Linked DNA regions of Homo sapiens. The protein of the gene in region 2 interacts with the protein of the main gene of each other region in a pairwise test. Each region holds a gene or a part of one and is shown on either strand. Other genes may lie near its edges. The genes, in order: M1AP, SIAH1, TBC1D22B, MOB3C, SPATC1L, PTPMT1 and COL26A1.

Region 1 (5,425 bases), on a different chromosome or scaffold from region 2:
TTTCTAAGGCAGCAGCTGATGCCCTTGGTCAGTTACACTCCTTGTAGTTTAAAGTCTGCAAGGTGCTTTCTCATGACCATTATAGTTTATCACCCTCAGAAAACAATTCTTATGTCATAGTCCCCATTTCTGGTACAGTTCTTTGCATATTTTTAATAAATGCTATAGAGGGTACGGAAAGAAATTAATAGTAGGTAGGAGCAATGGGTGGTATGGTTTGGAGTGAGGCTAGTGCTCAAGTTTGAATGCGTCCCCCAAAGTTCATTTGCTGGAAACTTAGTACCCAATGGAATAGTGTTCAGAGGTGGGGCCTAACAAGAGGTGATTAGGCCATAAGGGCTCTGCCCCCATAAATGAATTAATGTCATTATCTTGGAAATGAGTTAGTTATTGAGAGAGTGGGTTTGTTGTAAAAGTGAGTTCAGCTCCCTATTGCTGTCTTGCTCTTTTGTACCCCTTGCCCTTCTGCCTTCTGCCATGGGATGACACAGAAAAAATGCCCTCACTAGATGTGGGATTCTCAACCTTGGAATTCCTACCCTCCAGAATTTAAGAATACATTTCCTTTATTTACAAGTTAGTTGTTCTGTGGTATTCTGGTATAGCAACACAAAGGGGAGTAAGACAGGTAATGCTGGGGTTGAGCCTAGTAAGGTAGGTGGGGTCAGTTATAATGGACCCTCTAACCGAAAAGGAAACATAAGCCATTTTTAAGACAAAGAATGATATGATCAAAATATTTTTACAAGGACAATTCTAACATCAGTGGAAACGATAATCTGGAGATTAGAGACAGAAAGGCTAATTTGGACTATATGGGGGGAAAGAGCTGTTGAGAAGCTACCCTTTAAACTGAAACACAGGAACTCTATTGAATATCAGATTATAGTGTTTAAAAAAGGACATAGGTTAAATAGTTCTGTTCTTACCTGAGGAACAGTTGATAGGAGCAAAATGGTTTAGTGGGACTAGAATACAAGCAGGCAACTCTTTTCCTGTTGAAACATCTAACCTATCCTGTGCCACTCATTGAAATATTGCCCCACCCCACCTCCAACCTGCATCTAGACAATGAACTGAGAAAATAACAATAATAATAATAAAGAAAACAAGGAAAACTGCTTGTACATTTCTAGCTTGGAACTAGCATTATCTTTCCCTCTCCTGTGGACTAATTCAGAGAATTCCTTTTTAACCAGAGTTGAAGACCCAGACCAACCAACTGTTAAGGACCAGGACGCTCCTACCCCATCTGGAGTTCGTCAAAGGGACTATGGGAATCAACCTCAAGTAAGCGAGAATGAGTATGAAGAGAGCGACAGACCCTCTTGGAATACAGGAGTTTGAAAAGACTTAAAAGAACTTTGTGAAGGCAGCTATAACTTCCATGAGGGCAGTGACCATTGTCTGTACATCCACTGTACTCCAATCCTAGCACAATGCGTGGCACATAACGTGCCCACCACAGATGTTTAGTGAACAAAATAGCGACTGGCTGAAGGAAATGATGTGGAAGGGAAAAGTTAAAACCAAGAAAACGGTCGGTGGGGGAGCTACTGGCATGTTTCATGGGAAGGGGTAGAAAAAGAAAAATGTCAGGTTTAGCACAGCATTTCCAACAAATAGACAAAATTCTACCTAAGGGACAAAGAAGGACTGTTCTCAGGGTATCTAGGGACTTGGAGACCGTTTTCCTGAAGCGCCACCTGAAGCGCACCCTGAGGCAGCCAGGCCCCGCCTTGCCCGCAGTGAGCCTCCCGCCCAGCCGCGCCGGCCTGAGGGGGGCGCCTCCGAACGCGCGGGCGCACGCTGAGAGCCGGGAGGACCAGGTGAGGGGGCCTCCGTCTTCCGAAGACAGGTACGGTTCTCCACGCCTCGGGGAGGGAGGGCAGCCCGAGAGCAGCCGGCACCACTTCGCAGGCTGGGCTGGGCGTGGGCCGAGCTCGGGCCAGTCCTCAGGCAGGTGTTGGTTGCGCTGGCCGTGGCGGGTGCCGGCGCAAGACTGACGCCGAGAGAGGCTCCGAAATCGCTGTCGGAGTCATCCCTCCGCATACTGTTCTGGGCGGCCAGGCCTGCGCGGAGTCTGGGCCCGGAGCTTCCTCCGCGGGGCCCCCAGGCCCGAGGGCCGGGCTGCTGATCCGCCAGGCACGGTAGGCGCCATGCCGAGGGACCACGGAGGCTTCAGGGAGCCACGAGAATTTTTTTTCTTCTGGTTTTGCTTTGTTTTTGAGACGGAGTTTCACCCTTGTTGCCCAAGCTGGAGTGCAATGGCGTGATCTCGGCTCACTGCAACCTCCGCCTCCCGGGTTCAAGTGATTCTCCGCCTCAGCTTCTCGAGTAAGCTGGAATTACAGGCTCCCGCCACCACGCCTGGCTAATTTTTTTATATTTTTAGTAGAGACATGGTTTCCCTATGTTGGCCAGGCTGCTCTCGAACTCCTGACCTCGTGATCCGCCCGCCTCGGCCTCCTAAAGTGCTGCGATTACAGGCGTGAGCCACCGTGCCCGGCCACGAGAATGTTTTCATTTCGTTTAAAGTGAACCCATGAAGTCAAAGAAAGTGTTTTGATTTTTTTCTCACATCAGGAGGGGGAAATGAGATTTTTAGGGCCTACAAAATCCATTAACTTCTTTTAATCTTTTTTTAATGGAGGAAGGGGTCCACGAAGACGAAAGTGCCTTAGGGCCCACGAAATCTTTAATAGGGCCCTGCCAGAGGGAGAACCATTGAATCGTTTATCACGCGACAAAGTGAATGAGGGCTTGTAAAGGGGCCCTAACCTAGAATGCTCAGCACGGAACAGAACATCCGCAGAGGCAGACACAGCGAGAAGCCGATCTGTGAGAGGTGGATCTCCCGGGGTGCGGGCAGGGGAGGGCCTAGTGTGAGGATGGAGAGTTGGGCAGAAGGCACAAGCAGAACTTTAGGGCCAGGGTAAAGATATTGGATTCTGTTTCCAGTGGTGTAATTGGAAGTCCTTGGAGGGTTTTTAGTTTGGGCATAACTTGGTGGTTTGGAGTGGTTCAAGGCCCAGTTCCAGTTTTAACCAGTTTGCAGGGAGAATTCATTAAGCGAGTGTTCTTGGCAAAAGTGGAGAGTATAGGGTCAGAATAAGGTCAGAGCCTGTTTAGTACTATGCCCAGACACATCAGATGCATGAATTGATGATGTTTGAGGATGTAAGGAAGAGAGCTGCCTCTTACCTCATTTAAAATACAGTCTTCCAATTGCACATTAGTGTGGGATTGAAAAATGACTGCAAGCTGAAACCATTCAAAGAGATCTTAAACACCAATGGGAAAAATTACAGTTGTTCTATAACCTTGAAAAATTGTCAAAACACTAAAACTTTCTTACTAACTGTATAGGGAAATGTAAAACAGTAAAACTATTTCATACACTAACTTAAAACATTAGAAACATTGAGAGCTAAAGTGTTTTATTTGTTGAAAAAAAACTCTCATAGTAAAACTTATGAGAGAGCAAACATTTTTTGTGTGTCTTGGCAAACTGACATACTTCTTTCTAAGTTTGGGTTAGTTTCCTACATTTTATCCTTTGTACCTTCAATTTTGTAAAATATCTCTGAAAGTTTCTTTAATAATGAAGCTTTTTGCCAGTGGCCCTTTCTGTAGGATGTCTTCATCCTTTTCATCACAATGACTTTCCTCAAGTATGTTGATAAGTTTGCCTTCACTAAATTCCTCTGGCTGCTTCTCTAGAGTCTATCAGGTGGAGGCAGTGTCAACACTCTCATAGTCAGCTGTTTCTCCTTTAACTCCACTTATGTTAGATTCAGATTTCACTCCTGGCATTATCATTTTTTATTTCTTTGCTGCTCCTTTTATCGGCTAGTTTCCTCTTTCAGTTTTTGTTTTTATAAAACATCACATGGGCTTATCACTAGGAGACAAGGAGGCGACACAACTACACACTTCTGTCTGTGCTTTAACTGACTAATGGATCTGCAGTGACGGGTCACCAACAGACTTTGAAAGAAGTGATATAATTAATTACTGATCATGATGCACTGATCACTATATTATATCAGTACGCTATATCAGTATACTATACTATTGATACTGATAACTAGTAATTCGTGAACTAAAGAGCTAGATACTACTTTATGTAATTACAGTTAATATTCCATGGTAACTGAAATTTGAACTGTGTTGTTGGAAGACTAGTGTTAATTAACTAAACTGTAGTAACTGAAATCTATATACTTGAACCATGCAAAATGAGGACTGCCTCTACTTTATTTTTTTATTTTTATTTTTTTCAAGGGTGAGCTGGTGATGTTAAACAGCAACTTTTATTAAAGCAGCAGTGTACAGCAGCAGCAGAGGTACTGCAACTGTGGAGCAGGGCTACCCCATAGGCAGTGTGCCCAGAATAGCAGCTCAGAGGTAGTTCAGCAGTCATAGTTATACCCAGTTTTAATTACATGCAAATTAAGGGGGAGTTGATGCAGAAATTTCTAGGAAAAGCATGGTAACTTCCAGGTCATAGAGTCGTTGCTATAGAAAGGGATGGTAACTTCTGAGTGTTGCCATGGCAATGGTAAACTGACAGGGCACACTGGTGGGCATGTCTTATGGAAAGCTGCTTCCACCCTCGCCCTGTTTAAGCTAGTCCTCAATTTGGTCTGGTGTCCAAGCCCTTCCTGCAGAGTTGAGTCCCGCCTCCTACCTCACTATCAAAACTAAACTCATACGTGCCTTATGGCCCAGCAATACTGTGTCCAGAATTGGTGGGTTCTTGGTCTTGCTGACTTCAAGAATGAAGCCGCGGACCCTGGCGGTGTTACAGTTCTTAAAGATGGTGTGTCCGGAGTTTGTTCCTTCTGATGTTCGGATGTGTCTGGAGTTTCTTCCTTCTGGTGGATTCATGGTCTCGCTGGCTTCAGGAGTGAAGCTGCAGACCTTTGCAGTGAGTGTTACAGCTCTTAAGGCGGCGTGTGTGGAGTTTTTCATTCCTCCCGGTGGGTTTGTGGTCTCCCTGGCCTCAGGAGCGAAGCTGCAGACCTTCACGGTGAGTATTACAGCTCATAAAGGCAGTGCGGACCCAAAAAGTGAGCAGCGGCAAGATTTATTGCAAAGAGCGAAAGAACAAAGCTTCCACAGTGTGGAAGGGGACCTGAGCAGGTTGTCCTGCCTCTACTTTAAAATGGCGTTTTCAGATGTGAGAGATGGAGATGGATAATTAAATTTAATTATACATTAAATAAGGCCTCTGACTACCTGTTTGTGTGAATTTCTCTGTGTCAGCTTCAAGTTCAGCATTCCATGTAGAAATTGGCCCCATGTACTTAAAGTACAGTTTAAAAATATGTTATGTGCTTTCTTGGTAAATACATTAGTAATTGATTTGGGTTTCTGGTTCAAGATGACTTTCAACAGATTAGCATATTAATTCATTTAT
Region 2 (4,653 bases):
ATATTTTAAACTGAAATACGTATAATAGATGTGAAACTGATAACTTTTCAGGATAAGTATTCCACAAAGTACAAATTCAGAAACAATGTTAATGCATTTTACATCTGTTAAATATTAATCTATTCCCTCTAAGCTTCGGGAAGTTCTTACGAAATTGCTGTAGAGAAATATTCTTTCTTAATATCTGTAATTAAAAAGCATGATTAGGTTAAATTGGAGTTATGAAGGAATTATCTAGCTATGTCAGTAATGACATAAAATAACAAATAGGATTTTCAGTGAGTATGGTGTTTTGAAAACAGATCTTACATAACTAGGGTAACAAAGTTTAGTAATTTACAGAGTTTTAGGTGACTGCTTAAATTGTATTTTTAAGCAGTTGATTTACAAAATTTTTAAAGATTGGAGGTTCTTTGTTTAAAGAGATTTATTAACAGAATTTTGTGGAATTTCCATATTCGCTTTGTGAAATGTTAAAATCTAGATATTTTTTGTACAGCCCTCTCTTTCAACAAAATCTGTATGAAATCCCCAGAACCTTCCATCCCCCCGCCAAAAAAGGAAATTTTCCTTTTTACAATAAGTATCCTTAATAGTATTCTTCAAAATAGCAGGATGTCTAATGCACTTTAAATGATTTAGTTCCCATGGCTATAGTTACTAGAATATCTGCTGCATAAGGGCAAGAATTGTGTTTTTAATATATATCCTCAGTACCTAGTGCTCAGTAGGTATTTGTTTACTCACCTACTACTGTGCGTATTCTAATGACATTCAGATCTTTATTTTTATTTTTATTTTTTTTTGAGATAGTCTTGCTATGTTGCCCAGGCTGGAGTGCAGTGGTGATGTCATAGCTTATTGTGGCCTCCAACTGGGCTCAAAGGTTCCCCCCACCTTAGCCTCATAAGTGGCTGGGACTAGGAGCATGTGCCATCACACTGGGCTAATTTTTTAAAAAGTTATTTTGTAGAGACCAGGTCAGGTCTCGCCATCTTGCCTAGGCTGGTCACAAACTCCTGGGCTCAAGTAATCCGCCCACCTCGGACTCCCAAAGTGCTGAGATTACAGGTGTGAGCTGCTGTGCCTGGCCTCCAATCTTTTTGCCTGCTGAGATGTAGACCCATATATCCCCTTATGCAGATTTTTTTAATTGACTTTATTTTTTAGAGCAGCATTAGGTTCATAGCAACTTGAGTAGAAGAGACAAGAGATTTCGCGTGTAGCCCCTGCCCCTACACGTGTAACCTCCTCCATTATCAACATTCCCCGCCAAAGTGGTACGTTTGTTACAATTGAGGAACCTACATTGACACACCATTATTACCCAAAGATTATAGTGGCGTACATTTTATGGGTTTAGACAAATACATAATGACATACATGAATGCTTTCACCACCCTAGAAATCCTCTGACTTCCACCTATTTGTCCCCACACCCCCAACCACTTATCTTCTTTCTTTTATTGTCACCATAGTTTTGCCTTTTCCAGAATGTCATATGTGTAACTGGGCTTTTAAAATATGTAGCCTTTTCACATTGGCTTCTTTCACTTAGTAATATGCATTTAGGTTTCCTCCACGTCTTTATGGCTTGGTAATTCATTTCTTTAGGGCTGCATAATAATCTGTTGTCTAGATGTACCACAGTTGGTTTATCCATTCACCTACTGAAGGATGTCTTGGTTGGCTTCGAAGTCTTGGCAATTCTGAATAAAGCTGCTGTAAACGTCCATTTGCAGGTTTTTGTGTGGCCATGAGTTTGTAACTCCTTTGGGTAAATGCCAAGGAATGTGATTGCTGGATCAGATAGTAAGAGTTTAGTTGTTTTGCTGCTGTTTTTTTGAGACAGTCTCACTCTGTGCCCTGGGGTGGAGTACAGTGGCACAATCTCAGCTCACTGCAACTTCCACCTCCTGGGTTCAAGTGATTCTCGTGCCTCAGTCTCCTGAGTAGCTGGGATTACAGGCGCCTGCCATGACGCCCAGCTAATTTTTGGATTTTTAGTAGAGGCAGGGTTTCAACATGTCGGCCAGGCTGGTCTTGATCTCCTGACCTCAGGTGATCTGCCTGTCTTAGCCTCCCAAAGTGAAGAGTATCTTTAGTTTTGTAAGAAATTGCCAAACTGTCTTCCAGATTGGCTGTACCATTTTGCATTCCTACAAGCAATGAATGAGCGTTCCTGTTGCTCTGTATCCTCGGCCGGATTTGGAGCTACCACTGTTCTGGATTTTAGCCGTTCTTTTTTTTTTTTTTTTTGAGACGGAGTCTCACTCTGTCGCCCAGGCTGGAGTGCAATGGCGTGATCTCGGCTCATTGCAACCTCCACATCCCAGGTTCAAGTGATTTCTCCTGCCTCAGCCTCCTGAGTAGCTGGGATTAGAGGCATACACCACCACGCCCGGCTAATTTTTCTTTTTACTTTTAGTAGAGACGGGGTTTTGCCATGCTGGCCAGGTCAGTCTCGAACTCCTGACCTCAAGTGATTCGCCCACCTCGGCCTCCCAAAGTGGTGGGATTACAGGCGTGGGCCACTGCGCCTGGCCTGTAGTGGTATCTTACTGTTTTAAATTTGCATTTCCGTGATGACATGTGATGTGGAGCATCATTTCATATGCTAGTTGTTATCTGTATATCTCTTTGGTGGGGAGTTAGTTAAGGTCTTTTTGACTCTTTTTTTTAGGTTGGGTTGTTTTGTTATTGGTGAGTTTTTGTTTTTTTTTTGTTTGTTTTTTTGGAGACAGAGTCTTACTCTTGTCCAGACTGGAGTGCGGTGGCGCCAACTCAGCTAACTGCAACCTCCGCCTCCCAGGCTCAAGCAGTTGTTCTCGTGCTCAGCCTGCTGAGTAGCTCCTGAGTAGCTGAGATTAGAGGAACGAGCCCACCGTGCTCGGCTAATTTTTGTATATTTAGTAGAGACGGGGTTTCGCCATGTTGGCCAGCCTGGTGAACTCCTGGCCTCAAGTGATCTGCCTGCCTCAGCCTCCCAAAGTGCTGGGATTACAGGCGTGAGCCACCGTGTTCGGCCAGGTTTGCATATTTTGGATAACAGTTCTTTTTTAGATACGTCTTTTGCAGATATTTTTTCTGTTCTCTATCTCAAAGCTGGCATTGCCTCTCTTCTTCACATTTACATTCATTTCCTTCTACCTTTAAGAGATCTCCTTTTGGTCTCCAGCCTTACAGTCAGTTTTCCTACTGCAGTTTAAGTGAGCTTTCTAATAGGTGAACCTGACTTAAAAGGCTTTCAGTGTAAAGTTCTAAGTTCTTGATATGGTTCGTAAGTACATAGCCTCTCCTGAGCTGGCCTCTCTTGTTACTCCCCTGCCATTTTGGACTTTACTTGCAAGCCCCTCTCATCCTATTAAGCTCTCTTATCTCAGCCTGGACATCACTAGCTGAGAAGCTCTTTGTGAACTCTGCACATTGAATTGGATGTCATCTCTGTGTTCCCATAGCACTCTGCTCGGTCCCACTGTAACATATCCTCCTGAATTATAATTTTTCTTTAGTTGTATGCCTCCCCAGATAGACTGTAATCTCTATGACGACTTGGTCATCCTTGTGTCTCAAGAGTTTAGGACTCTTTCTGGAACATAGGTGGTGCTCAGTAAAAAGTTATTGAGCGACTGACTCCACACTGTCCTTATTAAACTCTTCTAGCCTTTTCGTTGTGTTTTGTTTTTACCAAGGCATAGTGTTTCTTACAAACTTCTCTAGCCTTATTGCCTGTGTTTCCCCTTTGCCCTACCTAGGCCAACTGGGTTCTTTTGTTCCTTGAACACTGCTTTAGCATCTCTGTGCCTTTGGTCATGATTGTATTTAGCCTCTGAAATGTCTATTTGTGCTACTTTGGGTAGATTACTGAACCTCTCTAAGCCTTAGTTCTATTAGTACATGAACAGTTATTAAGTATATTGCTGTTCCCTGCCTTCCCCTCGCCCCCCCAGCCCCCATGTCCTAATGCTAGAGTGTCAGTATAATTAAGTGGCTAAGAGGACAAGCCCTTAAGAGTCAGATCTGGATGTGTCTCTTGGCTCTATCACTTATTAGTTGTGTTTGTGACTTTAAGTTCCATGAGAGCAGAGACACTGCCTACTTTGCATCTAAAAGCACATTGCCTAACACAGCAAGTGTTGTAAAAAGATTAGTTGTTGAGTAAGTTACTTCTCTAAATATTACCACTTACCTTCTAGTGAGGAAAGAAAGAAACAGAATTACAAATTGTGAAGTGTACTGTAAAGGAGTCAAAGTGCTGAAGAGACCAGTGGGGTGGAAGGGAGACCTGGTGTCCAAGGATAAGGAGCTCGCCCTTTGAAGGGGGAAGGAGTACATCTTAGATGGAAGATGCAGCCAGATAAAGGCCCCATGAAGTAGGGATGAATTTGGACTGCTCTAGGACCTGAGGAGTGTTGCTGGAGCAAATGGGTAGTAGAGAGAGACAGGTTGAAGAACTGTGCAGAGGGAAAGAGAGGAGAGATGCTGTGAAGTGTTAGCTGATATTAGCATCTGGCTGTTGTTCAAGGAGATTCTAGGAGAATACCTAGAGCAATATTAGGACTTTTATTTTCTAAATGTAAACTATTTTGTTGACATTTAGCCTAAATACATATGGAAAAAGTGCTCAAATCATGTGTACAGCTTGACATTTTC
Region 3 (4,653 bases), on a different chromosome or scaffold from region 2:
TGAGAGGCAGAAGCAGAAAGAATTGCTTGAGGCCAGGGGTTCGAGACCAGTCCTGGGCAACAAAGCAAGACCCCATCTCTACAAAAAATTATGAGAAAAAAAATTAGCCAGGTGTGGTGGTGCATGATTGCAGCCCCAGCTACTTGGGAGGCTGAGGCAGGAGGACTGCTTGAGCCCGGGGAGTAGAGGTTGCAGTGAGCTATGATCATGCCACTGCACTCTAGCCTGGGTGACAGAGTGAGACCCTGTCTCTTAAAAAGTTAAAATAAAAAAAATTTAAAAGATGACTGTAGCCTGCTAGATGAAATGGTCATTCAGGAAAAATTGGGGAGAATAAAGTTTGAGTTCCCATATTGTATTCAGGATGCACTACTAAAAGAAGCCACCACCCCCCAACCTCTTTTTTTTTTTTTTTTTGAGACAGGATCTTGCTCTGTCACCCAGGCTGGAGTGCAGTAGCACGATCATGGCTCATTGCAGCTTTGACCACCTGGGCTCAAGAGATCCTCCCTCCTCAGCCTCCCAAGTAGCACAGGCACAGTAGCACAGGCACACACCACCATGCCTGGCTAATTCTGTAATTTTTTTGAGACAGGGTCTTGCTATGTTACCCAGACTGGTCTCAAACTCCTAGGCTCAGGCTGGTCTCAAACTCGTGGGCTCAAGCAATCCCTCTGGCCTTGGCCTCCCAAAGTGCTGGGATTATAGGAGTGAGTCATCACGCCTGGCTGAGAAGCCTTTTAAACTGACTACTTTCCTCATCTCCAAATTCAGAGTAAGCATGCACAGGTAAAAGAAAAGTCTCTGAACATCTCCAAGTTAAAATGAGGAATAAGCAGTGCTGAGCCATGGAAAACTGTATGGGAGGATAAAGGGATCATGAATGGGTTTTTAGCTTCCTGTGAGCTGAATCTTATAGTTAAAATAATGATGTTACCTTCAAAATCTTCTTTATGCTATGGGTAAGACATGAGGGACCCCACCAGTGGAGACATCTATATTTAAACAAAATTATAAATATAACCCAAAGTCAAATAGAAATTATTTTCAGCATTTTAACCACCATCCCTCTCTACTATGAGAACTGAAAGTTCCGTTAAAAGAGCACTAGTACTTAGTGTCCTGGCTACTGTAAAGTTGCAAAGGAAATCCCTAATCTTAAGAAGTTTACAGTTACTGCTTGAGTCAAAACATAATAGCCCCACTGACACCTTCCATGTACTTCATTAACTTGTTAGGTCTCAAAATATAACTACTACTCCCACTTCTAAATATATACCCAAAAGAATTTAAAACAGAGACTCAAACAGATATTCACATACCCATACTAGCAGCAGCATTACTCACAATAGCCAAAAGGTGAAAGCAACCCATGTGTCCACTGATAGATGAACAGCTCAACAATATGTGTTACATATGTACAACGGAATATTACTCAGCCTTAAAAAAGGAAATTCACACATGCAACAACAGGGATGAACCTTAAAGATATTATGCTAAGTGAAATAAGCCAGTCACAGAAGGACAAATATTGTATGATTCCACTTATTTGAGCTGCCTGGAGTAGTCAAATTCTTAGAGACAAATAGAATGGAGGCTGCAGAAGAGAGTTAATATTTAATGGATACAGAGTTCCAGTTTGGGAAGATGAAAAATGTTCTGGAAGTGGATGGTGATGATGGTCATACAATAACGTGACTGTACTTAATGCCACTGAACTGTACACTAAAAAATGGTTAACACAGTAAATTTTATATTATGTATATTTTACCACAATTTAAAAAATCACTACTTCCAGCTTGATAAAGTAGAGCAAATACAGGAATAGGAATTCTAAGATGTGGGTTCTTCATTCTGCCACCAGGTAGCCTCAAAATTCTGAGCAAGTTCCTTAGCCTTTCAAAGTGTTATTCCGCTCACAGATTTGTAACAAAGATCAAATGAAAATGTATGAAACCATGCTCTGAAGGAACCAAAGCTGCATATATGAACATAAGGTACTATTATGATTAGCCGCAAACCTGTAAACAGGTGCCACAGAACTATGCGGGGAGAAGCGCCAAAGAACATTAAGTAATTCCCTCACCTCCTGTACAAGTGGTTGCTGGAACAACGGAATGAGAGGATTCGTCCTTGGAATGTCAATGTGAATCTGAAAAAGAGAAGGCATGTCCAAAAACACAAATGCCAGTTTTTTTTTGTTTTTGTTTTTTTGAGATGAAGTCTCGCTCTTGTCCCCCAGGCTGGAGTGCAATGGCACTATCTCAGCTCACTGCAACCTCTGCCTCCAGGGTTCAAGCGATTCTCCTGCCTCAGCCTCCCAAGTAGCTGGGATTACAGGCACCTGCCACCAGGCCTGGCTAATTTTTGCATTTTTAGTAGAGACGGGGTTTCACCATGTTGACCAGGCTGATCTCGAACTCTTGACCTCAGGTGACCCACCCGCCTTGGCCTGCCAAAGTGCTGGGATTGCAGGTGTGAGCCACCGTGCCTGGCCCAGTTTGTTCTTTTGACAATTTTTTTTTAAAGAAATGGGAATCATCTGGCTGGGTGCGGTGGCTCACGCCTGTAATCCCAGCACTTTGGGAGGCCAAGCCGGGCGGATCATGAGGTCAGGAGATCGAGACCATCCTGGCTAACACGGTGAAACCCTGTCTCTACTAAAAATACAAAAAATTAGCCGGGCGTGGTGGCGGGTGCCTGTAGTCCCAGCTACTCGGGAGGCCGAGGCAGGAGAATGGTGTGAACCCGGGAGGTGGAGCTTGCAGTGAGCCGAGATCGGGCCACTGCACTCCAGCCTGGGCGACAGAGCAAGACTCTGTCTCAAAAAAAAAAAAGAAATGGAAATCAAAGTAGTAAGAAAACACAATTTATCTTCAGAAAGAAGTGACTGACACAGGAAAAAAATCTAGTTATACCTACCTGCCCATGTGGAACATGTTTCCATGACAACAATAGCTTATTAAACAGTGAGGAAACCTCCCAAAAGAAACCACTAAAGTCAAATGGCAATAGGCTTCACAGATTAAGGGTTTTTTCTTATTGCTCTGAAGTCTGTTTCACTCTGGGCTGGCATGTATGTAGCAGGTATGATCCAAGTAGGTACCCATCTTTCAGAATCTTACTCATCAACAGTTCCTAAGAACTAGAAGAGCTCAGAAAGCTGCAAAAATGTCCTAAAATAGGGAACCAGAGATGAACTTGCTTATGAAGTCATGATGTGTAAGAAGCGGGGAAGGGCCAGGGCGATGGCTCACGCCTGTGATCCCAGCACTTTGGGAGGCTGAGGCGGGTGGATCACTTGAGGTCAGGAGTTTGAGACCAGCCTGGCCAACATGGTGAAACCCCGTCTCCACTAAAATTACAAAAATTACATGGTGGCTCATACCTGTAATCCCAGCACTTTGGGAGGCCAAGGTGGGTGGATCACCTGAGGCCAGGAGTTCAAGACCAGCCTGGCCAACATGGCGAAACCCCATCTCTACTAAAATTACAAAAATTAGCTGGGTGTGGTGGTGTGCGCCTGTAATCCCAGCTATCCAGGAGGGTGAGGCAGGAGAATCGCTGGAACCCAGCGGACAAAGGCTGGAGCAAGCCGAGATTGCGCCACTGCACTCCAGCCTAAGTGACAGAAAAAGACTCGGTCTCAAAAAAGATAAAGAAAAAATTAGCCGGGCCTGGTGGCACATGCCTGTAATCCCAGCTACTCAGGAAGCCGAGGCAGGAGAATCACCTGAATCCAGGAGGTGGGGGCTGCAGTGAGCCAAGATCACGCCACTGCACTCCAGCCTGGACGACAGAGTGAGACTCCATCTCAAAAAAAAAAAAAAAAAAAAAAAAAAAGTGGGGAAGGACCAAAAGGAGTTGGCCTTCAGTAACTGAAGCTGAAAGTTCTTACTTCTGTTACCTAAGACATCACTATAGTCCATTTCAACTCAGGGATTTCCCAGTGCCCAGTCTAACTATGCAAAAGACTGTGTCAGCAGCAGCAGCAGCAGAGGCTACTTCAGTTCTTGAGGCTTGTTGTAAATAGCTGCCCACCTTCCACTTTCTGCAACCCCTGGCCTACTCTTCTCCTCCCTCCACATGTGATGTTGGGAGCAGACCTTTCCGCAGACCATGAGGACCATTATGGGCAATGACAGAAGACTCCCTGACAAGACTACTGAAAGCTACAGCTCCTACAGTCACAGATGCCAAAACAGCAGTGCAGCTGCCAGGAAGACATACTGATGTCATAGTCCAGAGGGACTGGACCACGGCTAGGTAAGCTTGTCTTTCCTCTCCATGCTCGATAACGCTTACTACTCACAGTGTGGTTGGTGGACCAGCAGCAGCAGCATTGCAAGGGAGCACATCAGAACTTCAGGCTTTACCTGAGACCTGCTAAATCAGAATCTGCATTTTCTCATAATCTCTAGGTGAGATCTTATCAAGATCCTAGGTGATTTGTATGTACATTAAAGTTTGAGAAGCAGTGCACTGACTAGTGCCAAAAAAGTCTGTCTATTTAAAATGGCTAAAATCAGAGTTGCTGAATGAAAAGAGGGGAAACAGTTTTGAGGATAAATTTAACTCCTAACCAATATACCACAGCCTGAAGACTTGGAAAGCCTGTACCCTGAGAGCACTACCATGAGACATACCTAAAGT
Region 4 (4,449 bases), on a different chromosome or scaffold from region 2:
TCCACCAGACTGAACTCGCGGATGAAGTAGTAGAAGTGCTTGTAGCAGGTGTTGACGTGCGCCTCTGCCCCCATGCTGAGGATGCTATCGAAGTGGTGGATGTAGACATGGACAAAGACTCGGAAGAGGCGGGTCAGGATCTTGGTGCAGACCTGCTGGAAGTTCTTAGGGAAGGGAACTCCTAGAGGGCAGGGGAGGGCAGAAGGGGATCAGTATCCTGGTGCCAAAGCTCTGCTCAACTTTTCCCTCCCACACACAGGCAACCAGGATGGCTTTTTCCCCAGCACACTTTTTAGTACACTTCCCTTTGGAAAACAGAGAGTGGTTTGACTTTCTCCCATACTTTTCTTTCTTTCTTCCTTTCTTTTTTTCTTTCCTTTTTGAGACGGAGTTTCACTCTTGCCCAGGCAAGTGCAATGGCATGATCTCGGCTCACTGCAACCTCCACCTCCCAGGTTCAAGGTATTCTCCTGCCTCAGCCTCCCAAGTAGCTGGGATTACAGACATGTGCCATCATGCCCAGCTAATTTTGTATTTTTAGTAGAGACAGGGTTTCTCCATGTTGGTCAGGCTGGTCTTGAACTCCTGACCTCAGGTGATCCACCTGCCTCGTCCTCCTAAATGCTGGGATTACAGGCATGAGCCACTGTGCCTGGCCATACTTTTCTTTCTAATGAAGCACAAATCTGACTGTGGCTCTCCCCTGCTGGAATATACATCATCTTCCACATTTTCCCATTACCTAAAGCAGGGCTTTGCAAACTTGTGGGGGTCACTGACCAACCCTTTTTAGACTATGATAAAAGTTACGACCTAAACTCTCCCCAGAAATATGTGCAATTGCAGAGATGCTCACATCACACTCTTGTATACAACTCCAAGGAGAGTTCAACAACTGGGTCCATTTAAAAAATCCCTGGGCCTTCAGGATTAAGTCCTAACTTTCCAGCAGGACGCTGCTCAAGGCCTTTCATGATCTTATCCTGACCTCCCTCTCTAGCCCCACCCCATGTCCCTCCTCTTTTCAACATTCACACAGAAGTCCTCAGACCCCCAATCCTGGAAATTATGAATTCTGCAAGAGTTAGTTCAGACAGCCCTCATTCCTTCAAATATTCAACAACACGAAGAACCTTCCATTTATGAGCAAGGCCTTGTGCTGGGCCCTTCACACCTTTTGCCTCTAATCCTTAGAACAATTCGCCTGATGTGTCTGATTGTCACTTTAGATATGATAAAACAGAAGTGCTTATAAAGGTGAAGCTGCTAGCCCAAGGCCACATAAGTATTAATCAGTGCAGAATGGAGACTGGATTCAGACCCTCTTTGCAGTGCACTGCAGCGACCCTCACAGATATTGGGACCCATGAAAAAGGCCCCGCTTCTGCATAGTCCCCCATGCTCAAGGCAGAGATCTTGGTGGCTTATGCCCTCTTCTCTGTGTGGCAGTCACCCAGGGTTTTAGGCATCGATACCTGGAGTCCCACAGGCCCAGGGAGGTATGGCCAGCAGGGACTATGAATCTACATTCAGGTCCACAGCTGGCCCACCCGGCTCTGTAGACCCCCTCCTCTTCCTCACCATTCCCAGGTGGGGTCGAGCCTTCCCTCCCTCTGAGCCCCTCCAGCCCAGCCCAGATTCCTCAGACATATCCTGCCCATGTAGACTTGGGGTCCTGGGCTCCCACAGATCTGAGCCCCAGTTCGGAATTCCTCCCAGTTCAGTGCACTTTCCCTCAGTAGCCTCAAGTTTCCTCCTATGTAAAATGAAGGTGCTCCTTGTCGGGCATGACAGTGCAAGAAACAGCAGGCCACTGGCTGGGGAGGAGCCGTGGGCATTGAATTGTGACTCAGTGCCCAGCTTCCTTCAGCATTCAGACTTCTCCCCTCAGGGCTTGACCACCCTGCCCCACCCACCGCTGATCCACACAGCCTCTGCAGAGATGAGCTCCAGGCCAGGTGGGGGCTGGGCCCAGCTACAGGTGCGGCTGGTGTGATGAACACAGTGTCATGCCTGCTCAGCTCCTGGACCAACAACCCCCTCCTGCTGCCCTCGGGTGGGTAAGCAGTGCCTGGGTGACATCACTCATCTCCCCTCCCTACCCTCACCCGCCCAGGCTGCCCAGCTGAGATAAGAAAAGGCCCCACAGCCTGTGCCTGGCAAGGGAAAATTCTGTCCTCAGAGCCCCAATCTGAGGTGATGATACCACCAGGGCCCACCCAACCACCAACTCCCTCCTTTTCCTGAGGCCAGGAGTCAGAGGGAACCCCGGGAGGCTGGAGGTCAAATCAGCTATGAACACCTCGGGGCAACTGTTCTGGAAGGTTCTGAGAATCACAGCATCTGTGGTCTTGCCAGAGTGGTCCTTGGTGGGACCACTTATGCTTTAGAAAAGAAAAGCCCTCTGAGGTGGGTGGATCACCTGAGGTCAGGTGTTCGAGATCAGCCTGGCCAATGTGGTGAAACCCTGTCTCTACTAAAAATACAAAAATTAGCCAGGCGTGGTGGTGGGTGCCTATAATCCCAGCTACTCAGAAGGCTGAGGCAGGAGAATCGCTTGAACCCGGGGGGCAGAGGTTGCAGTAAGCTGAGATCTCACCACTGGGTGAAAGACCGAAACTCTGTCTCAGAAAAGAAAAAAAAAAAAAAAGAAAGAAAGAAAGAAAAAGAAAAGAAAGAAAAGCCCCAAATTGGGAGTCAGGAAGTCCTAGCAAATGCTTGACCTTGAGCAAGGCACTTAACCTGTTTCAACCTCGCTTTCCTCTTCCACAAAATGGGGATGAAAATCAACCCCCAACCCTGCAGAGTGTCTATATCAAACTAAATCCTCATCTGTGGAATGGGCTCCCAGTGGCTCCCTCCCCGCCAGGTGACACTCACCAACACGCGTGGGAAAGACCTCTTCGTCGTTGATGAGGCCTTCGATCCAGTCCATGAGCAATGCCATATAGCGCGGCGCAGAGAGCTTGGCGGGCCGCCGGTACTGGCGCTCGTCCTGCCAGCGGTACTCGTAGCGGGGCCCGCCGGCCATGACCGGGCAGCTGGTCTCACTGCAGCGCTCCGCCATAGTGCCGTAGATGAGGTTGATGCGGTTGAAGAAGTCCACCACGTGCACGGCGATCCAGTCGTCGATGTTCTCCCCGGGTGGTAGCCTCACCACACTGCGCAGGTCCAGGCCCGACTTGAGAGAGGCCTGTGCCTTCTTGTACAGCTCAAAGCGCTGTGTGCCCGGCTCAAAGCGCTTCCGCGGCCGGAACGTCTTGTCCTTGGCGAACACCTGCTTCAGGCACAGGGCCATGGCCAGCTGGGCCTGGGGCTGCTGTCCAGGGGCTCGGACCTGAGGATACCCTGCCAGGGACAAGGGCATAGGGGAGCTGGCGGTCAAGGCCTTATCATCTGGGCTCTGACTTCCCAATTCATCATTTCCCTGTCACCTCTCAGCCTTTGCTCAACCTCTGCATCCTCTGCCTGGAATCTAAGTCCTCAGCCCCTAGGTCCAGTGCCCCGCCCTCTTTCCAGGCTATGTTAGTCCCCCTTGCTAAGCCCCCACAGTCCTCCCATCTTGCTTTGTCTCTTTTCTGCTTTCATTGCAGAGCTGGGCCTGGGCTCTAAACAGGTGCCCCTCAGACTTGCTGTTGGTCACGAGAGAGGTCGCAGAGGCTCCCTGCAGGCCCACCAGCAGACAGGGGCTTGGACGAGATGACCTCTGGGAGCCCCCTTGGCCAGCTGGTGCAACGTGGGAGAGCCTCGCAGCATTGTGCTGGGGGCAGGGTGGAGGGGGGTCGGGGGTGGCTTTCGGCTTCCTCTGGGATATCCCGTAGTCCATCCGGCCACCGGGGATTCCCAGGGAGCAGCAGGGAACTTTTCTACCAAAAATGTCCTTTCCTTTTTTTTCACCCTGAAAGAGGAAAGGGCCCTCCCGCTGCCAGCTGGGCGGCTTCTGAGTGTGGCTGCAAGCACTGGAGGAGGGGGAGGGCGGCAGGCCAATGAGGGCGTCGCTTCCTCTGACAACAGCTGGAGATCCTTCCCCTCAAGCCAGCCTCCTCCAGCCCCAAATCTGAACAAGCCACTGGCTCCTCCCGTTGCACCTGACACTCAGTAGACATTCCTCTAGCAACTACTATGTGCCTGGCACTGGGAGGTAGAAGAGTATAGTCAGATGCACCCAGGAGGGCCCATCTAGAGCTCAGGCAAATTTACTTTGCCTCCTAGAATTTAAGGATCCCAGATTCAGAACAAATTTTGGGAGACAGTGATCAGGGCCCTAGGCTCAGAGGCAGGAGTCCTGGGTTCTAGTCCCAGCTCTACCACTGGCTTACTGGGTGACCCCTGTATCACCATGGATTTAGCCCATCCAGGTCCTGGGTCACTCTGCTATAGCTAGGTTTCTAAGACCTGAGTCATCTCATCTCAACTGTGAGTGTGTGAGCTACTGGGAAATGCAGACCC
Region 5 (4,553 bases), on a different chromosome or scaffold from region 2:
GTATGTTTTGCAGATACGGTCTCCCACTCCATGGTTTTTCATTTTCATAATAATGTTTTTTGATGAGCAAAACTGTTTAATTTGATGATGTCCAATTTATTGATTTTTCTTTTGTATTTTATGCTTTTTATGTTCAGTTTAAGAAATCTTTGCCAAGCCCAAGGTCACACAGATTCTCTCCTGTGTGTTGTTCTAGAAGTTTTATAGTTTAGGTTTTACATGTAGGTCTCTGATCAATTCCAAGTTAATTTTCATATATGGTGTGAGGTTTGCATGTAGATATCCACCTGAGGCTCAGGCCAGCCTCCCACCTCAGCCTCCCAGGTATCTGGGACTACAGGTGTATGCCACCAGGCCTGGCTAATTTTTTGGTTTTTGTGTTTTTGTTATTGTAGAGATGGGATTTTGCTACGATGCCCAGGCTGGTCTTGACCTCCCGGGCTGAAGCAATTCGCCTGCCTCGGCCTCCCAAAATGCTGGGATTACAGGCATGAGCCACCATGCCTGGCCTGTCAATTTTATTTATCTTTTCAAATAACCGATTTTTTGTTACATTGATCTGTTGTATTGTTTTCTTCATTTAAATTTCATTTATTTCTTCTCTGATCTTAATTATTTTTCTTCTAATTTTGGATTTGGTTTGCTCTTGCATTTCTAGCTCTGTAAGATGAATCATTAGCTTATTTGAAGTTTTTCTACTTTTTTGATATAGGCACTCATAACTATAAACTCTTAGCACTTACAGCTATAGCTCTTAGTATGGCTTTTGCTGAATCTAGTACATAGTAGGTTTTGGTGTGTTGTGTTTCCATTATCATTTGTTTCAAGACATTTTTAAAATTTCCTTCTTAATTTCTTCACTGATGCACTGGCCATCCAGGAGCGTATTGTTTAATTTCTATGTGTTGGTATAATTTCCAAAATTCCTTTTGTTATTGATTTCATTTTATTCCATTATGGTCGGAGAAGATACTTGATATAATTTCAATTTTTTTGATTTTTAAAGACTTGTTTTGCAGCCTAGCATATGGTCTATCCTTGAGAATGATCCATGTGCTAATGAGAAGCAGGTGTATTCTGCACCTGTTGGATGAAATGTTCTGTAAATATCTATCATGTTCATTTGGTCTATAGTATAGATTAAGTCTGATATTTCTTTGATTTTCTGTCTTAAAGATCTGTCCAAGGGTGAAAATGCGTATTGAAGTCTCCAGTTACTATTGTACTGGGGTCTGTCTCTCGATTTAGCTCTAGTAATATTTGCTTTACATATCTGGGTGCTCCAGTGTTGGGTGCATATATATTTATAACTGTTATATCCTCTTGCTGAATTGACCCCTTTATCATTATATAATGACCTTCTTTGTCTCTTGTTATAGTTTTTGTCTTGAAATCCACTTTGATATAACTATGGCTGCTACTGCTCTTTTTTGGTTCTCATTTGCATGGAATATCCTTTTCTATCCCTTTATTTTCAGTCTGTGTGAGTCTTTATAGGCGACGTGTGTTTCTTGTAGGCAGCAGATGGTTGGGTCTTGTTTTTTTTTTATCCATTCAGCCACTCCGTCTTTTGATTGGAGAGTTTAGTCTATTTACATTCAAAGTTTCTTGGTTGTTTTTGACCAAACTCACATACTATCATTCATCGATTTGACTGTGCTGTAATTTTTTTTTTTGGAGACAGGGTCTCACTTTGATGCCCAGGCTGGAGTGCAGTGGTGCAATCTTGGCTCACTGCAACCTCCGCCTCCTGGGTTCAAGTGATTCTCATGCCTCAGCCACCCGAGTAGCTGGGATTATAGGTGCGTGCCACCACGCCCAGCTAATCTTTGTATTTTTAGTAGAGATGGGGTTTTGCCACATTGACCAGGCTGGTCTCAAACTCCTGACCTCAAGTGATCCGCCCACCTCAGCCTCCCAAAGTACTGGGATTACAGGCATGAGCTACTGCACCTGCCTATTTACATTCAAAGTTATTATTGATAAAGATTTACTCCTGCCATTTTGTTATTTGTTTTCTCATTGTTTTGTGGTCTTCCCTCCTCTTTATCTAGAAGAGTTTGTGTTGAATTGGTGTTATTTATTCCTTAAGTGGTAGAATTCACCGCTGAAACTACCCGAGCCTTGAATGGTCTCTGTGGGAACATTTTCCCCCTACAAATTCCATTTTATTGATAATGTCAACTGAAATTAAGGCTGTTGAGACAAATAATTCGATAAAGGTTTATTGGAAGCCAAATGTGAGGATCAACCCAGAGGAACACACCAACAAAGTTGAGAGTGTTCTGGAATCTAAGTCAGAAGGTTTCTATAGGAGAGGCTAGGAGGAGGGAAAGGACTCCTCATACTCATGTCTAAGTCAGAAGGCTTCTATAGGAGAGGCTAGGAGGAGGGAAAGGACTCCTCATACTCATGTTGTCCTTTTCTAGTCAGAAGGTTTCTATAGGAGAGGCTAAGAGGAGGGAAAGGACTCATACTCATATCTAAGTCAGAAGGCTTCTACAGGAGAGGCTAGGAGGAGAGAAAGGACTCCTCATACTCATGTTGTCCTTTTCTTTGGAGGGTACAACACAGAGGTTACAAGCATTGGCTACAGATGACAACATACAGGTCAACACATCTCTGTGCAAGACAGTCAGTAAACCTTTATGATTCAGGAATAAATCAGCATCTTTTCAGTCCATTAATCAGCACATCAGCAATCTGAGGAAATCATGATAAGATTCTTTACTCAGGGACCATTAATCATAAGACCTTCCCAAGCAGGCCAGTTTGGAAGTCTGTTTACTTTTAAACTGTCAAATGTGACCTGTAAGGTTATCAGATATAAGGCTATTCAGAGTATCTATTTCTTCTTGAGTGAACTTTGGTAGTTTGTGTCTTTTAAGGAATTGGTCAATTTCATCTAGGTTGTCAAATTTATTGGCATAAAGTCATTCCTAATACTTCCTTATTATCCTTTTTATGTCTGTAGAATCTGTGGTAGTGGCATCTCTAATTTCTGCTAGTGGTAATTTTTGTCTTCTTTCTTTTTTCCCCTAAGTCTGGCTAGAGGTTTATCAATGTATGGCCTTTTTCCTTTGAAGAACAGGTTTTTGGCTGGATCTTACAGAGCCCAGGTTGGACTAGAAATCATTTCTAGAACCTATACTAGAATCATTTCTCTTCTATAGGATGTTTCTTCTACCTCATTTTTGCCTTGGTGGGGGGATGGGAGAAAGAGCTTGATTCTTTTTTTTTTTTTTTTTCTTGAGATGGAGTCTCGCTCTGTCGCCCAGGCTGGAGTGCAGTGGTGCGATCTCGGCTCACTGCAACATCCACCTCCCGGGTTCAAGCCATTCTCCTGCCTCAGCCTCCTCAGTAGCTGGGATTACAGGCACCCGCCACCATGCCTGGCTAATTTTTGTATTTTTAGTAGAGATGGGGTTTCACCATGTTTGCCAAGCTGGTCTCGAACTCCTGACCTTGTGATCCACCCACCTCGGCTTCCCAAAGTGCTGGGATTACAGGCATGAGCCACCGCACCTGGCCAAGAGCTTGATTCTTGATGAGAGAAATACATTGATACAGAAGGAGGAGATTACACCTGCTCTTCCACACCCCTCATTGGCCCTAACACACTTCTGTGCAGTGTGTTGACATACCTCTTCTGCAGTCTTGAAAAGTGATTGGGAAAGAAATACACTGAAAACTACAAACATCACTGAAAGGAATGAAAGAAGACATAAATGACCAGGCACAGTGGCTCACACCTGTAATCCCAACATTTTGGAAGGCTGAGATGGGCAGATCTCTTGAGCCCAGGAGTTCAAGACCAGCCTCAGCAACAGGGCGAAACCCCATCTCTACCAACCCCCCACCACCCAAGTTAGCTGGTCGTGGTGGTGCATGCCTGTAGTTCCAGCTATTCAGGAGGCTGAGGTGGGAGGATCACTCAAGCCCAGAAGGTAGAGGTTGCAGTGAGCTGAGATCGTGCCACTGCACTCCAGCTTGGGTGACAGAGCGAGACCCTTTCTTCAAAAAAACAAACAAACAAACAATAAATAAATAAACAGAAAAACACCTTGTGTTCACAGATTAGAAGACTTTATATTGTTCAAAAATCAATAATTTTGATATGGATTACATTGGATCTGCAGATTCATGCAATCCCAATCAGAATCCTAGTGGCTTCTTTACAGAAATTGACAAGCAGAAACTGAAATTCATATAGAAGTGTAAGGAACCAGAATAAGTAAAACGATCTTGAAAAAGGAGAACATTGAGGGACTCATACTTCCCAGTTTCAAAATTGACTATAAAACTTACAGTTAACAAGACTGTGGTACTGCCATAACGATGGACATACAGATCAATGCAATGGAATGGGAAGGTCAGAAATAAAACTGTACATAGATGGTTTTCAACAAGAGTGCCAAGACAATTCAGGAGGGACTGAATACTGTCTAACGCGTGGTGCTGGAACAAAGAGGTATCCACATGCCAAGGAATGAGGCTGGGCCTTACTCCACACCACATACACAAATTAACTCAAAATGGATCAAAGACCTAAG
Region 6 (3,834 bases), on a different chromosome or scaffold from region 2:
CATCATGTCTTTGAAATGACAAAAGTCCCATCCTTTGTTGCCCGTGCAGTAATCTGCTTGTGGAACTCTTTAAGAACATCCAGCTGGCCAGGCCTGATGTGGATGTATGACCGGATCTTGGCGATGGCTCTTACAGCCTCCTCTGGACTCCATTTGTGCACCTGAAGTACAGGGTTGGGAAATCAGCAGAGAAAGAAAGAAGCAGGTGTCAAGGTGCCCTTGACCCATGAGCAGGTGCTAAAGGACTCTGAGATTTCATTTCTTTGGAAACTCTATTTTGCAGGCATTAAAAATCATGCTGCTTGTATTATAAATGGGAGAGTACTGTAACCACTGCAGTCAGCCAGTCTCACAATACTATGCAACAGGTCAGGTGGAAAGTCAGTCTTTCTACCCAATTCTTGCTCTGCCAAATCCTAGAAAAAGGAAGTTGCACATGGGAAGCTGAGATCCTAAGTTCAAGACTGCCTCAGCCTACTCCACGTCCTCTCCGAGCTGGGCTTTTGGTTACAAGAATTTCTAGGAACGAGTATGCAATAGATGTTTTTATGCAACTTGTCACCATGGCTAGAAAAACAAGTAACTCATAATTTAAATAGGAGGGTTAACATGTCCTAAGGATACTCATTGGTTTAGAACTCAACAGAACCAAGAAAATACAGATTTCTAACTTGCTAGTTCAATTCTCACTTGGTGCAAAATACCCTCCTGAGACCCTGCTTCCAGCAGAGCCCTTATGACCAAAATTTTAATATTACTCAACTATATACACACTAGTCCACAGTAACACAAGGCCAGACTTAGCTATTCACATGACTTAGAAAATGCTCTGTGGGAGCCAGACATTTTGTAACTTAGGTTACAAAATGATGATGGACTACAGGGTATTTGTTTCTCCTAAATATTTTTAAAGCATCCCACCTGCCAATTATGACACATTAATAGGCAGAATCCAGTTTGGAGCCTGTTTCCAGAAACTAATATCCAGAACTTTACTCTGGAATACTTGAAGAAACTTGAGTACTATAAAGCTGAAAATGATCAGCACTATTATCTATGATATTGTTTCCTGACATGGTATTAGAACAAGTGTCTAGCCTTTTGCTGGGGTTGAATGGCTTTTGCAACTCCGTTTTTAGAGTGCCCGCTATAGGCCAGCACTTGATGTAATTTCTTATTTAAACTTCATAATACATTTAGTTTGAGAAAACATGTTGCATAAGGCAGAAGTCACTTTTGCTGATCCTCACTGGCAGGCAGCAGAGCCCCAGGTTACCCTGTCACAAGGCTCAGGTGCTTTCCATCATACCAAACCACCTCCCAACAGCCTGAAATCAAGCACACAGCTCCTTCCAACAAGGCCCACCAGTAGACCATGCTATTGAAGTTCTGGAAATCTGCTATAAATGGGACCAGAAAGACTTTTTTTTTTTTTTTTTTTTTTTGAGACAGTTTCACTCTGTTGGCTATGCTGCAGTGCAGTGGCACAAATCACGGCTCACTGCAGCCTCTACCTACTGGGCTCCGGTGATCCATCTCAGCCTCCCAAGTAGCTGGGACTACAGGTGCACACCACCACACTGAGCTAACTTGTTGTATTTTTTGTAGAGACGGTTTTGCCATGTTGCCCAGGCTGGTCTCAAACTCCTGGGCTCAAGCCATCCTCCCATCTCAAGCCTCCCAAAGTGCTGGGATCATAAGTGTGTACCACGATGCCCAGCCCAGAAAGAACTTTGGTACCTGAATCAGGTATGCTGCCACCATAGTGGCACTCCTGGAGCGCCCAGCCTTACAATGCACGTAAACACACTGGCCCAGCGACTGGTACTTGAGAGCAAATTGGACTCCCTTCTGGAGGTTGTCCAAGGTGGGGATCCCAGTCATGTCTACTGTGCTGAGCCGCAGCTGCTCGACTCCTAGTCTCTTCCACTCCTGGAACCAGGTCCACCAGTATGAAAAAGAGAATGAAAAAAAACTATGTGGGTGGGATGATAAGGGGCTCCCAAGAAGCAGCAAAGCAACAAGGAAGTTTCAGGGTTTACTACAATGGGAATACACTGTTGCCTGTTTTCTAAAATAGAAACTTCTTACAGAAATGCTTTTTTTTCCCATTCCAGGTGAGGACAGAAATGTCTTTAAAATGGCTGGCCTACATGGTTGGTTTTTCATCAAGCAACAGCTATGCTGCTGAGTTAGAATTATGTCCAAGATTTAAAGTGTTCCTTTTTTTTTTTTTTTTTTTTTTAAAGACAGAGTCTCGCTCTGTTGCCCAGGCTGTAGTACAGTGGCGTGATCTCAGCTCACCACAACCTCCACCTCCCAGTTTCAAGCGATTCTCCTGCCTCAGCCTCCCGAGTAGCTGGGACTACAGGCACGCGCCACCAAGCCTGGCTAATTTTTGCATTTTTAGTAGAGACGGGGTTTCATCATGTTGGCCAGGCTGGTCTCGAACTCCTGACCTCAGGTCATCCGCCTGCCTCAGCCTCCCAAAGTGCTGGGATTACAGGTGTGAGCCACCACACCAGCAGGTAAAGTGTTCTTAAACTACCCTTTGGGTACTTGAATATTTAGCTGCAAGATATTAGCTATATACATTTTAGCTGCAAAAAATTCAGCTGCAAACGTCTTAACATTTTATTTTGGCCGGGCATGGTGGCTCACGCCTGTAATCCCAACAGTTTGCAAGGCCAAGGCGGGCAGATCACCTAAGGTCAGGAGTTTGAGACCAGCCTGGCTAACATGGGGAAACCCTGTCTCTACTAAAAATACAAAAATTAGCCATGCGTGGTGGTGGATGCCTGTGATCCCAGCTACTAGGGAGGCTGAGGCAGGAGAATTGTTTAACCCTGGAGGGAGAGGTTGCAGTGAGCAGAGATCGCACCATTGTACTCCAGCCTGGGAGACAAGAGCAAAACAACATCTCAAAAATATATATATATTTTATTTTAGAGACACGATCTTGCTATGTCACCCAGGTCAGAGAGCAGTGGTATGCAATCATGGCTCCTTGCAGCCTCAAACTCCTAAGCTCAAGCAGTCCTCCCACCTCAGCCTCCCAAGTAGCTGTGACTACAGCTGCATGCCACTGTGCCTGGCTAATTTTGTTATTTTTGTGTGTGTGCAGATGGGGGTCTCGCTATGTTGCCCAGGCTGGTCTCAATCTCCTAGCCTCAAGCCATCCTCCTGTCTCAGCCTCCCAAAATGCTGGGATTACAGGCATGAGCCACCAGGCCCAGCCAGTGTAATTTTTTTGCATAATTTTGGCACCTGTGTAGTGATTCAGCTGCAGATTTGGGGTACAATATTTTGCCAAGGCTTTCTATTTCTCTGTCCATAAGTCTCTTTTTTACCACTGTTTTTTGAGGGAACATATGGTAGAAAATAGGGTTATCATTTTAAAATTAAAACAATGGGCCGGGCATGGTGGCTCATGCCTGTAATCCCAGCACTTTGGGAGGCCAAGGCGGGCGGATCACGAGGTCAGGAGATTTAGACCATCCTGGCTAACACGGTGAAACCCCGTCTCTACTAAAAATACAAAAAAATTAGCCGGGCATGGTGGCAGGCGCCTGTAGTCCCAGCTACTTGGGAGGCTGAGGCAGGAGAATGGCATGAACCCAGGAGGCGGAGCTTGCAGTGAGCCGAGATCGTGCCACTGCACTTCCAGCCTAGGCGACAGAGCAAGACTCCGTCTCAAAAACAAAAACAAAAATAAAATTAAAACAATGCACTGACCTTCATTAGTGCAATGTTATCACTTAGAAGAAATAGGTGGCCAGGTGTGGTGGCTCACGCCTGTAATCCCAGATTTTGAGAGGCCAAGGTGGGCAGATC
Region 7 (3,478 bases), on a different chromosome or scaffold from region 2:
GTTCTCATGGTAGTGAATAAGTAAGTCTCACGAGATCTGATGGTTTTATAAGGGGAAACCCCTTTTGCTTGGTTCTCATTCTCTCTCTTGCCTGCTGCCATGCAAGACGTGCCTTTCCCCTTCCACCATGATTGTGAAGCCTCCCCAGCCACATGGAACTGTAAGTCCATTAAACATCTTTTTCTTTATAAATTACCATAAATTACCCAGTCTCGGGTATATCTTTATTGGCAGAGTGAGAACAGACATAATACACAGGGCAAGAGCTTAATACCTACAAGGGTCACAGGGTGATTCAGCAGTGGTTTGGGTCTCTGTGTTGTACCTGGGACTTGTCATCAGGGTATATGGGTCTCCCTGGGGTCTCTGATATGTCACTGACCCCAGACCTGGACAGGAGCATGGAGCAGGATCAGGGTTGCTCCTCCAAGAGCCCTGAGGCCGCCCCAACTTAACTCACCTTCTTGCAGAGCTGGGGGCCAGGCCCAGTTTATAGACAGTGTGGTTGGGTGGAGGGGTGAGGTGGCCTCTGAAGGGGCTTCCCTCACCCTCTGGAGGTAAGAAACAGATCTTGACTCTGGAGGTAGGGCTCAGACACAGGACCAAATTGAGGACTAGCCAAAACAGGGACAGAGCGGAAGCATCTTTCCATTGGACACGCCCACCAGTGTGCCATGTCAGTTTGCCATCACCATGGCAACACTCAGGAGCCACTGCCCTTTTCCATGGCAAAGACCTGATGACCCGGAAATAACCACCCTTTCCCTAGAAATTTCTGCATAAACCAGCCCTTAATCTGCATGCAATTAAAAGTAGGTATAAATATGGTGCAGAACTGCCCTGAGCTGCTATTCTCTGCCTGGGGAGAAGCCCTGCTCTGCACGAGCAGTCATGGAGCTGTAGTCCTGCCCCTCCAATAAAGCTGTTTCTCTTGCCTCCAGCTTGCCCTTGAATTCTTTGCTGGGTGAAGCCAAGAGCCCTTGCAGGTTAAGCCCCAATCCGGGGCTTGCCTATCGTGTGTCACTCCCAGCCCCCTCCCTGGAGGTCCTGAGGGCAGAGCTGGACCTCCCTGCCACAGAGGCCCTGTGGTCACCCCGGGCCTGGCTGGAGCTGCTCACAGCTTCCCTGGCACCTGGCCGGTAAGATGCAGACCAGCCTCCTGCAGAGCTGTCACCACACAAACAGACCCACAGTGGGGAGAGCACCTTTATTGTCACATATAATAATAACGCTACAGGCTGGTGGTCCCGCCCGCCTCTGACCACCCCTCCATGAAGACAGAGACTGCCTCTCCAGACCTGCCTCAAGGGCCAGAAGAAGATCCCAGGGCCCAGAGGGACCAGGCCACAGCCAAACAGGAGTACCAAGAGCACTGGAGACAGTCACTCCTGCTGTGAAGACAGAGTGCCCCAGGGTGGCGCCAGCACCTTCAATTCTCTGAGTTTGCTGCCGTGGCTGTGTCCCAGGTCCCAGCCCAGCAAGAGAGGAACACCAGGGCTGAGCTGATCACGGAGACCCTGGCCCCAGAGGCCTTGAGGGCTCCAGTCAGAGCTGTTCTGGGCTGCTAGGGACCTGGTGCCTGCCATGGAGCCTGCCAGGCCCCCAACTCTGGAAGGTGGGAGGCAGGAGCATCTCTTCCCAGCAGGCCTGGGACTCTGTTTCCCTCTCTGCAGCTTGCAAAGGGGACACTGGGCTTGCTGTGTCATGCAAAAGTAGCAAACCTATAGAGTCCACTGAGAGACAAACTCGTGGGGCAGAGGCTGCAAGTCCCACCTCTGATAGACATGCCCATGAAATGCTGCCTCCCCTGGCTCAGGGATGGGATGGACCCAGAGAGAGCGGGTGGGCTCAGCAAGACTGGGAGGCAGTGGCCAGGGATGCCTATCTGGTTTGGTGGACACTTGCACCCCCAATGCTTCTCTCTCAAGGTCCTCAAGTCCGTATGGCTGGCAGTGATTTATTCAGGGTCTCCCTGGCCTCTGAGAGCTGCAGTCCAGGCTGCTCCCCCAGCCAGTGGGGAAGGGGGATGAGGAAGGGAAGCCCCAGGCCCTGCAGGACCCTGCCTACCCCCTCAGGCTGGCTGGCCCAGCCTCCCCGCAGCCCTGCCTGCCTTAAGGAGCCGTTCTGGCCCTGCGCCCTCCCTGTCTGAGTTTTCTCTCGAAGAGGGGAAGCTGGCAGGGTCGAGAGAACATGGCTTCAGGAACTGAGGGTCCTGGGTTCAAATCCTGCCCCTGCCACCCGTGATCTGGTGGCCAAGAGAGGGTTATTTCTACCGTCTGAGCCTCGGTCCCCTTGTGAAGTGGGGATAATAAGCTTACCTCCTAAGGGTTAAATAATGAGACAACGTAACGAAAGTTCCCTGGACAGGGCCAGTTACAGCAGGGACTCAATAAATGATGGGTATTAGGATTATTCTCATTCCCAGCACCCAGCCCACCCAGACCCCGTCTCCAGCCGGGAGTGGGGGTAGGGGAGGGGACAGGCCAGAGGAGGGCTCTGATGAGGGTGTTGGCCCCTCCAGACCCTGCCCCTGGAGACATTATCTGTCCCCAAAGCCCCCCATGTCCTCACAATCATCCATGCCTGGAGCCCAGTTCCCCTGGGGGCATCTTTAGGAAACAGCGGCGGCTCAGGCCTCTGGGGCTGGGTCTCTAGCCAGGACAGGGTGTCCTGGAGCAGTGGGCTCTCACTTCCTGCTGCTGGCCTGGTCCACGCTCTTCTGTCCAGGGTCGGGCCCAAGCAGGGCAGCAAGGACCCCATCGGGTTGGGCGCCACCCCTCTTCATCTTGAGGTTGGCTCTCAGGGCAGCATCCTGGCCAGAACCTCCCTCTGGGGAGGCCAGGGGATCTGGAAGGAGAGCAGGAGGGTGGACTCGAGGTAGAGCCTTAGGAACACTTGGGGGTACATTTGATCATGATATGTGGCCACGGAGAGATGCTCTTGCCCAGCGTGGAGAAGCAAGGCAGCAGCAGGCTTTCAGCCCCTTATGCATTCATTCATTCATGGATCCATGCATCCATCCATTCATTCACTCATTCACCCATCCACCTGTCCATTGACCCATTCATCCATCTGTGTATCCACCCATTCATCCATTCACCCATTCATCCACCCACTCAGTCACTCATTTATCTATGCATCTATCCATTCATTCACTCATTTACCTGCCCGTCCATCCATCCATCCATCCATCCATCCATCCATCCATCCATCCATCCATCCACCCATCCATCCACTCACTTATCCACCCACCCACCTATCCACTCATTGATTCATCTATGCATCTATCCATCCATCCATCCATCCATCCATCCATCCATCCACTCAGTCATTCATTTATCTATGCATCTATCCATTCATTCACTCATTTACCCATCCATCTATCATCCATCCATCCATCCATTCACTCACTTATTCACCCACCTACCTGTCCACTCACCCGCCCATCCACCCATTCATTCATTCATCCATGCATCTA

Evidence for each region.
Region 1: the proteins of SIAH1 (region 2) and M1AP interact in binary tests that used the Homo sapiens proteins (3 or more experiments, as listed by UniProt).
Region 3: the proteins of SIAH1 (region 2) and TBC1D22B interact in binary tests that used the Homo sapiens proteins (3 or more experiments, as listed by UniProt).
Region 4: the proteins of SIAH1 (region 2) and MOB3C interact in binary tests that used the Homo sapiens proteins (3 or more experiments, as listed by UniProt).
Region 5: the proteins of SIAH1 (region 2) and SPATC1L interact in binary tests that used the Homo sapiens proteins (3 or more experiments, as listed by UniProt).
Region 6: the proteins of SIAH1 (region 2) and PTPMT1 interact in binary tests that used the Homo sapiens proteins (3 or more experiments, as listed by UniProt).
Region 7: the proteins of SIAH1 (region 2) and COL26A1 interact in binary tests that used the Homo sapiens proteins (3 or more experiments, as listed by UniProt).

The regions. Positions count from the first base shown.
Region 1 is NC_000002.12:74,644,698-74,650,122, reverse strand, and holds the start of M1AP (meiosis 1 arrest protein), read left to right. Parts: upstream 1-1,792; 5' UTR 1,793-1,858; exon of another isoform or gene 1,859-2,786; coding exon of another isoform or gene 2,787-2,848; intron 2,849-5,014; exon of another isoform or gene 5,015-5,035; intron 5,036-5,425. UniProt on the Homo sapiens protein: Required for meiosis I progression during spermatogenesis.
Region 2 is NC_000016.10:48,378,535-48,383,187, reverse strand, and holds part of SIAH1 (E3 ubiquitin-protein ligase SIAH1), read left to right. Parts: intron 1-4,653. UniProt on the Homo sapiens protein: E3 ubiquitin-protein ligase that mediates ubiquitination and subsequent proteasomal degradation of target proteins.
Region 3 is NC_000006.12:37,284,506-37,289,158, reverse strand, and holds part of TBC1D22B (TBC1 domain family member 22B), read right to left. Parts: intron 2,153-4,653; coding exon 2,087-2,152; intron 1-2,086. UniProt on the Homo sapiens protein: May act as a GTPase-activating protein for Rab family protein(s).
Region 4 is NC_000001.11:46,610,024-46,614,472, forward strand, and holds part of MOB3C (MOB kinase activator 3C), read right to left. Parts: intron 3,349-4,449; 5' UTR 3,299-3,348; coding exon 2,881-3,298; intron 182-2,880; coding exon 1-181. UniProt on the Homo sapiens protein: May regulate the activity of kinases.
Region 5 is NC_000021.9:46,163,490-46,168,042, reverse strand, and holds part of SPATC1L (speriolin-like protein), read left to right. Parts: intron 1-4,553.
Region 6 is NC_000011.10:47,567,798-47,571,631, reverse strand, and holds part of PTPMT1 (phosphatidylglycerophosphatase and protein-tyrosine phosphatase 1), read right to left. Parts: intron 1,933-3,834; coding exon 1,741-1,932; intron 162-1,740; coding exon 3-161; 3' UTR 1-2. UniProt on the Homo sapiens protein: Lipid phosphatase which dephosphorylates phosphatidylglycerophosphate (PGP) to phosphatidylglycerol (PG).
Region 7 is NC_000007.14:101,556,739-101,560,216, reverse strand, and holds the end of COL26A1 (collagen alpha-1(XXVI) chain isoform 1 precursor), read right to left. Parts: intron 2,848-3,478; coding exon 2,687-2,847; 3' UTR 1,193-2,686; downstream 1-1,192.